Linked DNA regions of Homo sapiens: region 2 is linked to region 1. A link means that fine-mapping ties the variant in region 1 to the expression of a gene that starts in the linked region. Tissue or cell type: CD8 T cells. Region 1 holds a variant in brackets; the other region holds the start of a gene. All regions are shown on one strand. Distances are from middle to middle.

Region 1 (5,142 bases):
ATTCTGCCACCTGGCTTGGGGACAGTGCAGGCTGGCTGTGAGGTTGGCCCAGTGGTCAGCTGGATCCCTTAAATGTCCACAACACTGGGGACAACAGGGTGGAGTGGAAGAGTAGCCCAGATCCAATGTTGCTTTCACAGTAGCATGTATGGGGAAGAAGAGCTTGTTTGCCAGCCGCTTCCTGAATGCTTTGCTAAATATCATTTCATTTAATTCTCACTTGTAGCATTCAAATGGGGTAGGCTGTATTTTCTTTGCCTTTTTTTTTTTTTTTTTTAGACGAAGTCTCGCTTTTGTTGCCCAGGCTGGAGTGCAATGGCATGATCTTGGCTCATTGCAACCTCTGCCTCCCGGGTTCAAGTGATTCTCCTGCCTCAGCCTCCCGAGTAGCTGGGATTATAGGTGCATACCACCACGCCCGGCTAATTTTTTGTATTTTAAGTAGAGACGGGGTTTCACCATGTTGGCCAGGCTGGTCTCGAACTCCTGACCTCAGGTGATCCGCCCGCCTCGGCCTCGCAAAGTGTTGGGATTACGGGCGTGAGCCACTGCGCCCAGCCCCAGTGGGTAGGCTGTATTTTCATTACAATTTTTTTTTTTTTTTTGAGATAGAGTCTCACTCTGTCACCCAGGCTGGAGTACAATGGTGTGATCTCGGCTCACTACCTCCTGGGTTCAAGCGATTCTCCTGTCTCAGCCTCCTGAGTAGCTGGGATTACAGGCGCATGCCATCACGCCCAGCTAATTTTTGCATTTTGAGTAGTAACGGGGTTTCACCCTGTTGGCCAGGCTGGTCTCCAACTCCTGACCTCAGCTGATCCACCTGCCTTGGCCTCCCAAAGTGCTGAGATTATGAGCATAAGCCACCACACCCAGGCTATTTTTAGTACAATTTAACAGCTGGGAAACTGAAACTGATGCCCAGAGGCATTAACATACAGGTAATCATACAGAGGTTGTTTCGTTTCATCAGCTGGTAAATTGCAGGCTTTGGACTTTGGGTGAGAACTCTGACCTGGATGGGCTGGGCTGTTTTGCAGCGACTCTCTCCTGTAACTTCTGGAAAATCAAGTAGAGTCTCTCAGGCCCTCCTGGCCCCTCCCTTCCAAGGAGAGAGGTGTGGGGTGTGTGCATTGTTGCGGGGTGGGGGTCCCTGCCCAAGTCCCTGTGCTTCCTGGGAGATGATTATCTTCTGCCTCCCATTCTCCCCCAAGTTCTTCCTCCTCTTTTTTTTTTTTTTTTGAGACAGAGTCTCACTCTATTGCCCAGGCTGGAGTTCAGTGGTGCGATTTCCCCTCATTGCAACTTCTGCCTCCCGGGTTCAAGCGAATCTCCTGCCTCAGCCTCCTGAGTAGCTGGGATTACAGACGCGTGCCACCACACCCAGCTCATTTTTGTATTTTTAGTAGAGACGGGGTTTTACCATGTTGGCCGGGCTGGTCTTGAACTCCTGACCTTGTGGTCTGCCTGCCTCGGCCTCCCAAAGTGTTGGGATTACAGGCATGAGCCACTGCGCCCGGCCCGAGTTTAAATATTGAGATGACAATTACTTCCTAGCCCCTCTCTGCGCCTGCCCTGTCTCCCTACCCTTCCTCTCCCTAACTGACTTAGAGACTGGGGCTCTGCCACAGGGGAGGGTGGGGAACCCTGGGGTCCTAGAGTGGTGGCATGTGGGCAGTGGCAGGTGCTTCCTCCCCTCCTCACTAGAGAGGTGCCCAGCAGGGCCAGGGTCGGGGCTGGGGCTGTGCTGGGAAGCTTTGGGCCATTGACACATGGGAGCTACAGCAGAAAATGGATCAGCTCAGAACATCTGGGGGCTCTCTGCATCTAGGGCGGGACTCCTCCTCCTTTATTTTTAAATTTTTAATTTTTAAAAAAGAGATGGGGGTCTCACTCTGTCACCCAGGCTGGAGTGTAGTGGTGCGATTGTAGCTCACCGTAGCCTTGACCTCTTGGGCTCAAAGGATCCTCTCACCTCAGCCTCCTGAGTAGCTGGGACTACAGACCCATGCCACCAAGCTTGGCTATTTTTTTTTTTTTTGGATAGATACAGGGTTTCGCTATGTTGCCCAGGCTGGCCTTGAACTCCTGGGCTTGAGCGATCCTCCTGCCTTCAGCCTCCTGAGTAGCTGGAATCGATTACAGGTGTGAGCCACCGCGCCTGGCTTCCCTACTTTCATTCAGTTGTGACACCCTCCCATCCTCGTCCTGGGCGCACTTAACAAATGTCTGTGCTGCAGGCAACAGTGATGGCGGGAAATGAGAGGGGAAAGATCTTAGATGAGTGGGGAGAAGTTATTTCCTGGCTGGGGAATATCCTTTTTTAAGTTACATTTTGGGCCAGGCACAGTGGCTCATGCCTTTAATCCCTGTACTTCGGGAGGCCGAGGTGGGTGGATCGTTTGAGCCCAGGAGTTTGAGATCAGCCTGGGCAACATAGGGAGACCCCCTTCTCTACCAAAAATACAAAAATTAGCTGGGTGCGGCGGTGCGTGGCTGTGGTCCCAGCTACTCAGGAGGCTGAGGTGGGAGGATGGCTTGGGCCTAGGAAGTCAAGGCTGCAGTGAGCTGAGATCGTGCCACTGCACTCCAGCCTAGGGGATAAAGGGAAACCCTGTCCTAAAAAAAAAAAAAAAAAAGTTATATTTTATTTATTTGGACAGTTAGTGAATTCATAAAATTGAAAACGTATAAAGTGAAAAGTTCTCCTCTTCCCTGCCTTCCTCGACCCAGTATTCATTCCTAAAGCAGTGTTAACTGTGGTCCTATATTGCATATATTACCCACTTTTTTTCTTCATTTTTTTCTGTAGCCCAAACAGGTACATGCATATATCATCAACAGGTATTTTTCTGCCCTGAATCCATGTTTTTACATAATTGTAGCATCCTTTACACACTCTTCTGTACTTGACTTAAAAAAAAAAGAAAGAAACCTAGCTAACAGTGTATCTTAAGGATAGTTCCAGATTTGTACATCATAGACTTTCTCATTTTTTTTTTTTTTTAGACGGAGTTTAGCTCTGTCACCCAGGCTGGAGTGCAGTGGCGTGATCTCCAATCACTGTAACCTCCGCCCCCCAGAGTTCAAGCGATTCTCCTGCCTCAGCCTCCCAAGTAGCTGGGATTACAGGCGCCTGCCACCACACCTGGCTAATTTTTCCATTTTTAGTAGAGGCAGGGTTTCT[G/A]CATATTGGCCAGGCTGGTCTTGAACTCCTGACCTCAAGTGATCCACCTGCCTTGGCTTCCCAAAGTGCTAGGATTACAGGCATAAGCCACCACACCTGGCCCTCATTCTTTATTTTTTGCCTGTTTAATGAAAAGCTGCATACTTTATATTGCATGAAAGTAACATAATTTTATTTATTTATTTATTTATTTGGAAACGGAGTTTTGCTCTTGTTGCCCAGGCTGGAGTGCGATGGTGCGATCTCAGTTCACCACAACCTGCGCCTCCCAGGTTCAAGCGAGTCTCCTGCCTCAGCCTCCTGAGTAGCTGGGATTACAGGCATGTGCCACCACTCTCGGCTAATTTTTTATTTTTAGTAGAGACGGGGTTTCTCCATGTTGGTCAGGCTGGTCTCGAGCTCCCGACCTCAGGTGATCTGCACGCCTTGGCCTCCCAAAGTGCTGGGATTACAGGCATGAGCCACCTTGCCCAGTTGAAAGTAACATAATTTAATTTGTCCCCTACTGATGAGCATTTAAGTTGCTTTCAGTTACTTGCTATTACAAACTTAGTGCACAAATAATTTTGCAGTGTTGCAAGTATATCCCTGGGATAAATTCCTCAACATGTATTACTGGGTCACTAGTTATTGGTTGCCTATAGTTTTGCCAACATAGTATATTTAAAAGTAAAATAAAATTGGCTGGATGTGGTGGCTTATGCCTGTAATCCCAGCACTTTGGGAGGCTGAGGTGGGAGGATCGCTTGAGCCCAGGAGTTCAAGACCAGCATGAGCAACATAGTGAGACTCCCAGCTCTCCAAAAAATAAAAAATTGCTGAGTGTGCTGGCTTGTGCCTGTAGTCACAGCTGCTTGGGAGGCTGAGGTGGGAGGATCGCTTGAGCCCAGGAGTTTGAGGCTGCAGTGATCTGTGATCATGCTACTGTACTCCAGCCTGCATGAGAGAGTGAGAACCTGTCTCAACAAACTCCAAAAACAAAACAAAAAAAATTGTCCCATTTAAGAGGTGAATGGTATTTCAGTACAGCTTTACTTTATTTATTTATTATTTATTTTTGAGACAGAGTCTTGCTCTGTCACCCAGGCTGGAGTGCAGTGGCACAATCTTGGCTCACTGCAACCTCCGCCTCCCAGGTTCAAGCGCGCTCCTGAGTAGCTGGGATTACAGACGCGCGCCACCATGCGCAGCTCATTTTTGTATTTTTAGTAGAGACGGGGTTTCACCATGTTGGCTAGGCTGGTCTTGAACTCCTGACCTCGTGATCTGCCTGCCTTGGTCTCCCAAAGTGCTGGGATTACAGGCGTGAGCCACTGCACCAGGCCAGTTACTTTATTTTTTTAAAAATTAAAAATTAATTAATTTTTAAATTAATATATTTAATTCAGTAAGCATTAAGGGTTTAATTAGCTTAATTTTTCCTATTTCTTTTGAGACAGAGTCTTGCCCTGTCACCCAGGCTGGAGTGCAGTGGTGCTATCTCGGCTCAGTGTAATCTTTGCCCACTGCAATCGCTGCCTCCCGGGTTCAACTGATTCTCTTGTGTCAGTCTCCCGAGTAGCTGAGATTACAGGCATGTGCCATCATGTCCAGCAAATTTTTGTATTTTTAGTAGAGACGGGGTTTTGTCATGTTGGCCAGTCTGGTCTTGAACTCCTGACCTCAGGTGATCCACTCACTTTGGCCTCCCAAAGTGCTAGGATTACAGGCATGAGCCACCGCACCTGGCCTACTTTCTATTATGAGGAAATTTGAGCATCTTTTCATGTGTTTTCCAGTTTTCCGGTTTATTAAGTTCCGCTCTTATCTTTATTAACGTCTATGTGCTCTCTCAGGTTTATAGGTTTATTTTATTGTTTGTTTTACAACTTCTGGAATTGGATTTCTAATTAATTTTATTTATTTATTTATTTTTTAGAGAGGGGCTCTTGCTATGTTGCCCAGACTGGAGTTCA
Region 2 (5,142 bases), 29 kb before region 1:
TAGTTTTTTTTTTTTTTTTTTTTTTTGTATTTTTAGTAGAGACAGGCTTTCATCATGTTGGCCAGGCTGGTCTCAAACTCCTGAGCTCAAGCGATCCACCTGCCTCGGCCGCCCAAAGTGCAGGGATAGCAGGCGTAAGCCACTGCACCCAGTCTTCTTCTTTGTATTTTAATAAAGACAGCGTCTTGCTGTGTTGCCTAGGCTGGTCTTGAACGCCTGGCCTCAAGTGATCCTCCTGCCTTGGCCTCCCAAAGTCGGGGGATTGCAGGCTAGAGCCACTGCACCTAGCCTCTCTCATTCTCTTTGACATCGTCCCTTCCCCAAGACCTAAGGCCATACCTCTGGCCTCTCTGATTCCCTCCTGTGCCCCACCTTCTCTGGGTTCCATTGTTGGTGCCCTGCAACCCCAAGGCTTGATGGCCTTCTTGGTTCTCTTCCCCTGCAGGAAGTTTGCCCCAAGATGCTCAGTGTGCGGTGGGGCCATAATGCCTGAGCCAGGTCAGGAGGAGACTGTGAGAATTGTTGCTCTGGATCGAAGTTTTCACATTGGCTGTTACAAGTGCGAGGTCAGGGGCCCCCAGCACGTGCAAGGGGCTGGCAGTGTCTAGGGTGCTGGGTAGAGCATGAGGGGGAACACAGAGGTCTGGGGTTGATGGAAACCTGTTGCTTCTTTCTTTTTTTTTTTTTTTTGAGACGGAGTCTTGCTCTGTTGCCCAGGCTGGAGTGCAGTGGCACAATCTTGGCTCACTGCAACCTCCACCTCCCGGGTTCAAGTGATTCTCCTGCCTCAGCCTCCTGAGTAGCTGGGATTACAGGTGCTGGCCACCATGCCTGGCTAATTTTTGTATTTTTAGTAGAGACAGGGTTTCACCATATTGGCCAGGCTGGTCTTGAACTCCTGACCTTGTGATCCTCCTGCCTCGGCTTCTCAAAGTGCTGGGATTACAGGCGTGAGCCATCGCGCCCGGCCAATTGTTGCTTCTTTTTCAACAGGAGTGTGGGCTGCTGCTCTCCTCTGAGGGCGAGTGTCAGGGCTGCTACCCGCTGGATGGGCACATCTTGTGCAAGGCCTGCAGCGCCTGGCGCATCCAGGAGCTCTCAGCCACCGTCACCACTGACTGCTGAGTCTTCCTAGAAGTACCTGCTGGGTTCTCAGTTCCAGTTCCCATCCTTTGATTGATCACTCTCCCTGACATCCACCTGTATGACTTTGTCACCAAATGCTGTCTTCTCTTTCTCCAATCAAGAAATAATAATCCCTCGAGTTTACAAAACACTTCCAAGTCTGTTGTCTCATCTGATTCTCCCAGTAGCCCATTACAGGCCCAGTCATTGTTACTGCCTGCATTTTTTTTCTTTTTTTTTTGAGACGGAGTCTGGCTCTGTCACCCAGGCTGGAATGCAGTGGTGCCATCTCGGCTCACTGCAACCTCTGCCTCCCAGGTTCAAGTGATTCTCTTGCCTCAGCCTCTTGAGTAGCTGGGATTACAGGCGCCCGCCACCACGTCTGGCTAATTTTGTATTTTTAGTAGAGACGGGGTTTCACCACCTTGGTCAGGGTGGTCTTGAACTCCTGACCTCAAGTGATCTGCCCGCTTCACCCAACCAAAGTGCTGGGATTACAGGCGTGAGCCACCGCCCTTGGCCACTGTCTGCATTTTTACATGTGAGGATGTCAGAGCTGAGAGGTGACTCCCCCAGATTGCATGGTTCTTAAATGGTGGAACCTGGGTCTTTTTGACTCAGGTCCAGTTTTTTTTGACAACTCTTGTAATCCGTCACTACCCTCCTCTCAGTGCTGGGAGCAAGCACGCCTCAGGGAGGAGGCAAGATTTCCTCTATGTATCTATTTTGAGACAGGGCCTCACTCTGTTCCCCAGGCTAGAGTGCAGTGGTGCAATCAAGGCTCACTGCAGCCCTGAACTCCTGGGCTCAAACAGTCCTCCTGGCTTAGCCTCCCCAGTAGCTAGGACCACAGGGGCATCCCACCAAGCCCAGTTATTATTTTTTTGTGTGTAGATGGGATCTTGCTATGTTGCCCAGGCTAGTCCTGAACTCTTGGGCTTAAGTCCTCCCTCCTCGACCTTCCCAAGTGCTGGGATCACAGGTGTGAGCCAATGTGCCTGGCCCTAAATATTCTGTAAAGGGGCCTTGCTATGTTGCCCAGGCAGGTCTCCAACTCCTGGGCTCAAGTGATTCTCCCACGTCGGCCTCCCAAAGCGCTGGGATTGCAGGCGTGAGCCATCTCAGCTGGTCTTCCTATTAAGTCTCACACTCAATTCACTGAGAGGGGCCTTGGTGTTACTCCCGGGGGTGGTAATCCATTGAATCTGGGCGGTCCATACTCTGTTTAGGGCGTTAACTTACAGCCTATTTCATCCAAATACTGAGCGGGGTTAAGACTGAGATCTGCCAATTTTACTTAAAGACGGGGCGTCTTTGTCGAGGAAAAGCAGGAACGGCGGACTTTGCATTTAGTGCGCACTGTGGCACCCAATTTTGGCTGGATATTTGGAGCAGAAAATGGTGGGATACGATGCTTTAAAATGGTTGCTTCCACCTTCCATCCCCTAAGCGCCCGCGCTTCCCAAGCCCACGCCCTGCCCGAGGAGGGGACGAAATCACCCCCGGTGAGGTCAGGAGGCCCGTGGGGGGAACATGGCTGGATGAGAACCGTCTTAGGACCCCGACACATCTGGGGTCGCGCGATCCTCGACTTCCGCTCTCCCTTCGCGCCCAGAGGGCTTGTTCGCCTCCCGAGGCCGCGCTTGGCCCAGCCGAGGTCCCGTAGTTCCTAACGCTCGAGCCGTTATCGTCTCGAAAAGCCGCGCGAGACTTGCGAGATCCCCGCCCCTTTCCCATCACGCCCTGCTCTCCCCGCCCTTCGCGCTCGGTTTGTTAGTTCCAGTTCCGGCCGCGAGGGTGGAGCTTTGTGCCTCGGAGGCGTGGGTGACGCAGGCGCAGCGCGGGCTGCGCGCGCTACTGCCCATCCCCGGTTGTCCCACTTTTGTTCGCCTCTCTTCGGCCCTCTACTCAAGAGCTCCGTCTCCGTCTCGCCCTCCTCGAAGTCCTCGTCGCGCGCCCGCGACCCAGGTCGCCCTGAAATCTAGCCCGTCCGAGCGCGAGTCCAACGGCCGCGGCCGCACCAAGGTGGGGGAGGGGAGGAGCCTGGGGGGCCCCGCTGGGGCGGGAGAGGAACCGGGGTCCACGGGGGCGGGCGCGGAGAAACTCGGGGCGAGTGGAGGTGTTGGAGCCGCGTTCTCAGGCCTAGGATGGTGGGGGCCGCGGAGGGCTGGCCTTGGCGGGAGGGAAGCGGGCGAGCTGCCCGCGAGGGACGGTCCCTTCCTCCGCTCGTCCTTTTGCACCACTCCTACCGCCTCTCCCCGGTCCCCAGGCCCCCTCAGACCGTGCCATGGGTGACAGTGATGACGAGTACGATCGAAGGCGCAGGGACAAGTTCAGAAGAGAGCGCAGCGACTACGACCGTTCCCGCGAGAGAGATGAAAGACGTCGAGGGGACGATTGGAATGACAGGTGAGCCGTTTTTAACTTCATCTTGTCCCCGTTTCATGCCGTTTCACTCCACCCGCGTCGCTTTTCTTTCTCCCCCTTGTAATTTTTATGAGGGCGAATCCTATGAAATGGCTCATTGGACCGTTTTCTGTGGTTCAGCCTATTTGCTGTTGGCCAAATAACTAGCTGTGGCTTGGTTTTTGAAATTCTCTGCAGATCAGAGCTATAGAGCTAAGAGTTTGAGTATGAAGAAGCACTGTTTATACATGCACGAAAAGCGTGCTTTTTTGCTTTTTTTTGTTTTGTTATTGAGATGGGGTCTTGTTCTGCTGCCCTGGCTGGAGTGCATTGATGCAGTCGTAGCAGCCTCCACCTCCCGGGCTCAACCGAGCCTCCCGCCTCAGCCTCTTGAGAAGCTGGGACTCCAGGGGGAGGCCATCACGCCCGCCTAACTTTTAAAAATTATTATTGTTATTTCGAGACAGAGTCTTGCCCTGTCGCCCAGGCTGGAGTGCAATGGCGCAATCTTGGCTCACTGCAACCTTCGCCTCTGGGGTTCAAGTAATTCTCCTGCCTCAGCCTCCCGAGTAGCTGGGATTACAGGCACCTGCCACCACGCCCGTCTAATTTTTGTATTTTTAGTAGAGACGGGGTTTCACCATGTTGGCTAGGCTGGTTTGGAACTCTCGACTTTAGGTAATCCACCCAGCTCGACCTCCCAAAGTGCTGGGATTACAGGCATGAGCCAGTGCTTGGTCTAAAATTATTTTTTGTAGAGACAGCGTCTTGCTCTGTTGCCCAGGTTGTAAATTATATTTTAGGAGGATTGCTTCAGAAAAATAATAATATAGAGTTGATCTGACTGGAGAGGTCGTCAGATTATTTCCCTGACAATATATGATTAGGTTTCTTGTCACTGTTTTGCCTAAAATCTCAGAGTTCATAGGGCGGTGCTGATTGGATTGATTATAAGATGTGGTTATTGACCTTAGGGTGTTACAGTGAGCTTGGCATGGGGGATCAGAATGGCAGTGGATGTATTCTGTAAATGAGTATATATAGTGGAAGTTATAAAGAGGGTAAGCATTGAGGGAACAGATCTCTAAAGGAGGGGAGCGGTGCTGGAGGTTGTGTGTCAGGGACCCACTGGAAAGTGACACTTGGCTAGACTTGGAAAGATGAGTGGGAATTCCCCAGACACGAGTGACATGAACAGCTTGGAGTTGTGGACATAACGTGTGATTTTAGCATATTCTAGTTTGGTTAGAGTCCTGTTTCTCAGGATGTCCACAGACCATAGGGGGTCTCCGAGGCTAAAATTAGTTTTTGTGGTAATGTTTACATATTATTGCCATTTCCACTGTTGGTGCCATAGCAATGATGGGTAAAACCGCTGATGCTTTACCAAACATCAAGGCAGTGACAGCAAAGAGTTAAAAAAAAAAAGCCAGCCGGGCCCAGTGGCTCACACCTGAAATCCCAGCACTTTGGGAGGCCGAGACGGGCAGATCACGAGATCGAGAGATTGAGACCATCCTGGCCAACATTGTGAAACCCTGTCTCTACTAAAAATACAAAAGTTAGCCAGGCATGGTGGTGCGCGCCTGTAGTCCCAGCTACTTGGGAGGC

Alleles and levels. Positions count from the first base shown, and alleles are read on the strand shown. Sizes are in standard deviations (SD) of each study's normalised expression.
In carriers of allele G in region 1, the expression in CD8 T cells of the gene that starts at base 2,925 in region 2 tends to be lower than with A alone (large effect, 1.0 SD a copy in Kasela 2017).

What was found. PIP is the estimated chance that this variant, and not a neighbour inherited with it, causes the effect.
Region 2: SRRT starts here. The variant in region 1 is fine-mapped to the expression of SRRT in CD8 T cells (Kasela 2017, PIP 0.95).

Annotation. Positions count from the first base shown.
Region 1 is chr7:100,901,188-100,906,329 of GRCh38, forward strand. It overlaps the pseudogene RN7SL549P. Among named protein-coding and RNA genes, the nearest start is that of ACHE, 7.9 kb to the left of the region's middle. The variant G/A (reference allele first, on the strand shown) is at 3,188.
Region 2 is chr7:100,872,179-100,877,320 of GRCh38, forward strand. It overlaps SRRT (serrate, RNA effector molecule), which reads left to right and starts at 2,925. Exons shown (of 20, transcript NM_015908.6): 1 at 2,925-3,150; 2 at 3,395-3,534. The coding sequence starts at 3,413. It overlaps TRIP6 (thyroid hormone receptor interactor 6), which reads left to right. Exons shown (of 9, transcript NM_003302.3): 8 at 446-566; 9 at 994-1,276. The coding sequence ends at 1,125. RefSeq lists enhancers at 1,810-2,474, 2,475-3,140, 2,717-2,766, 2,977-3,036 and a silencer at 3,177-3,406.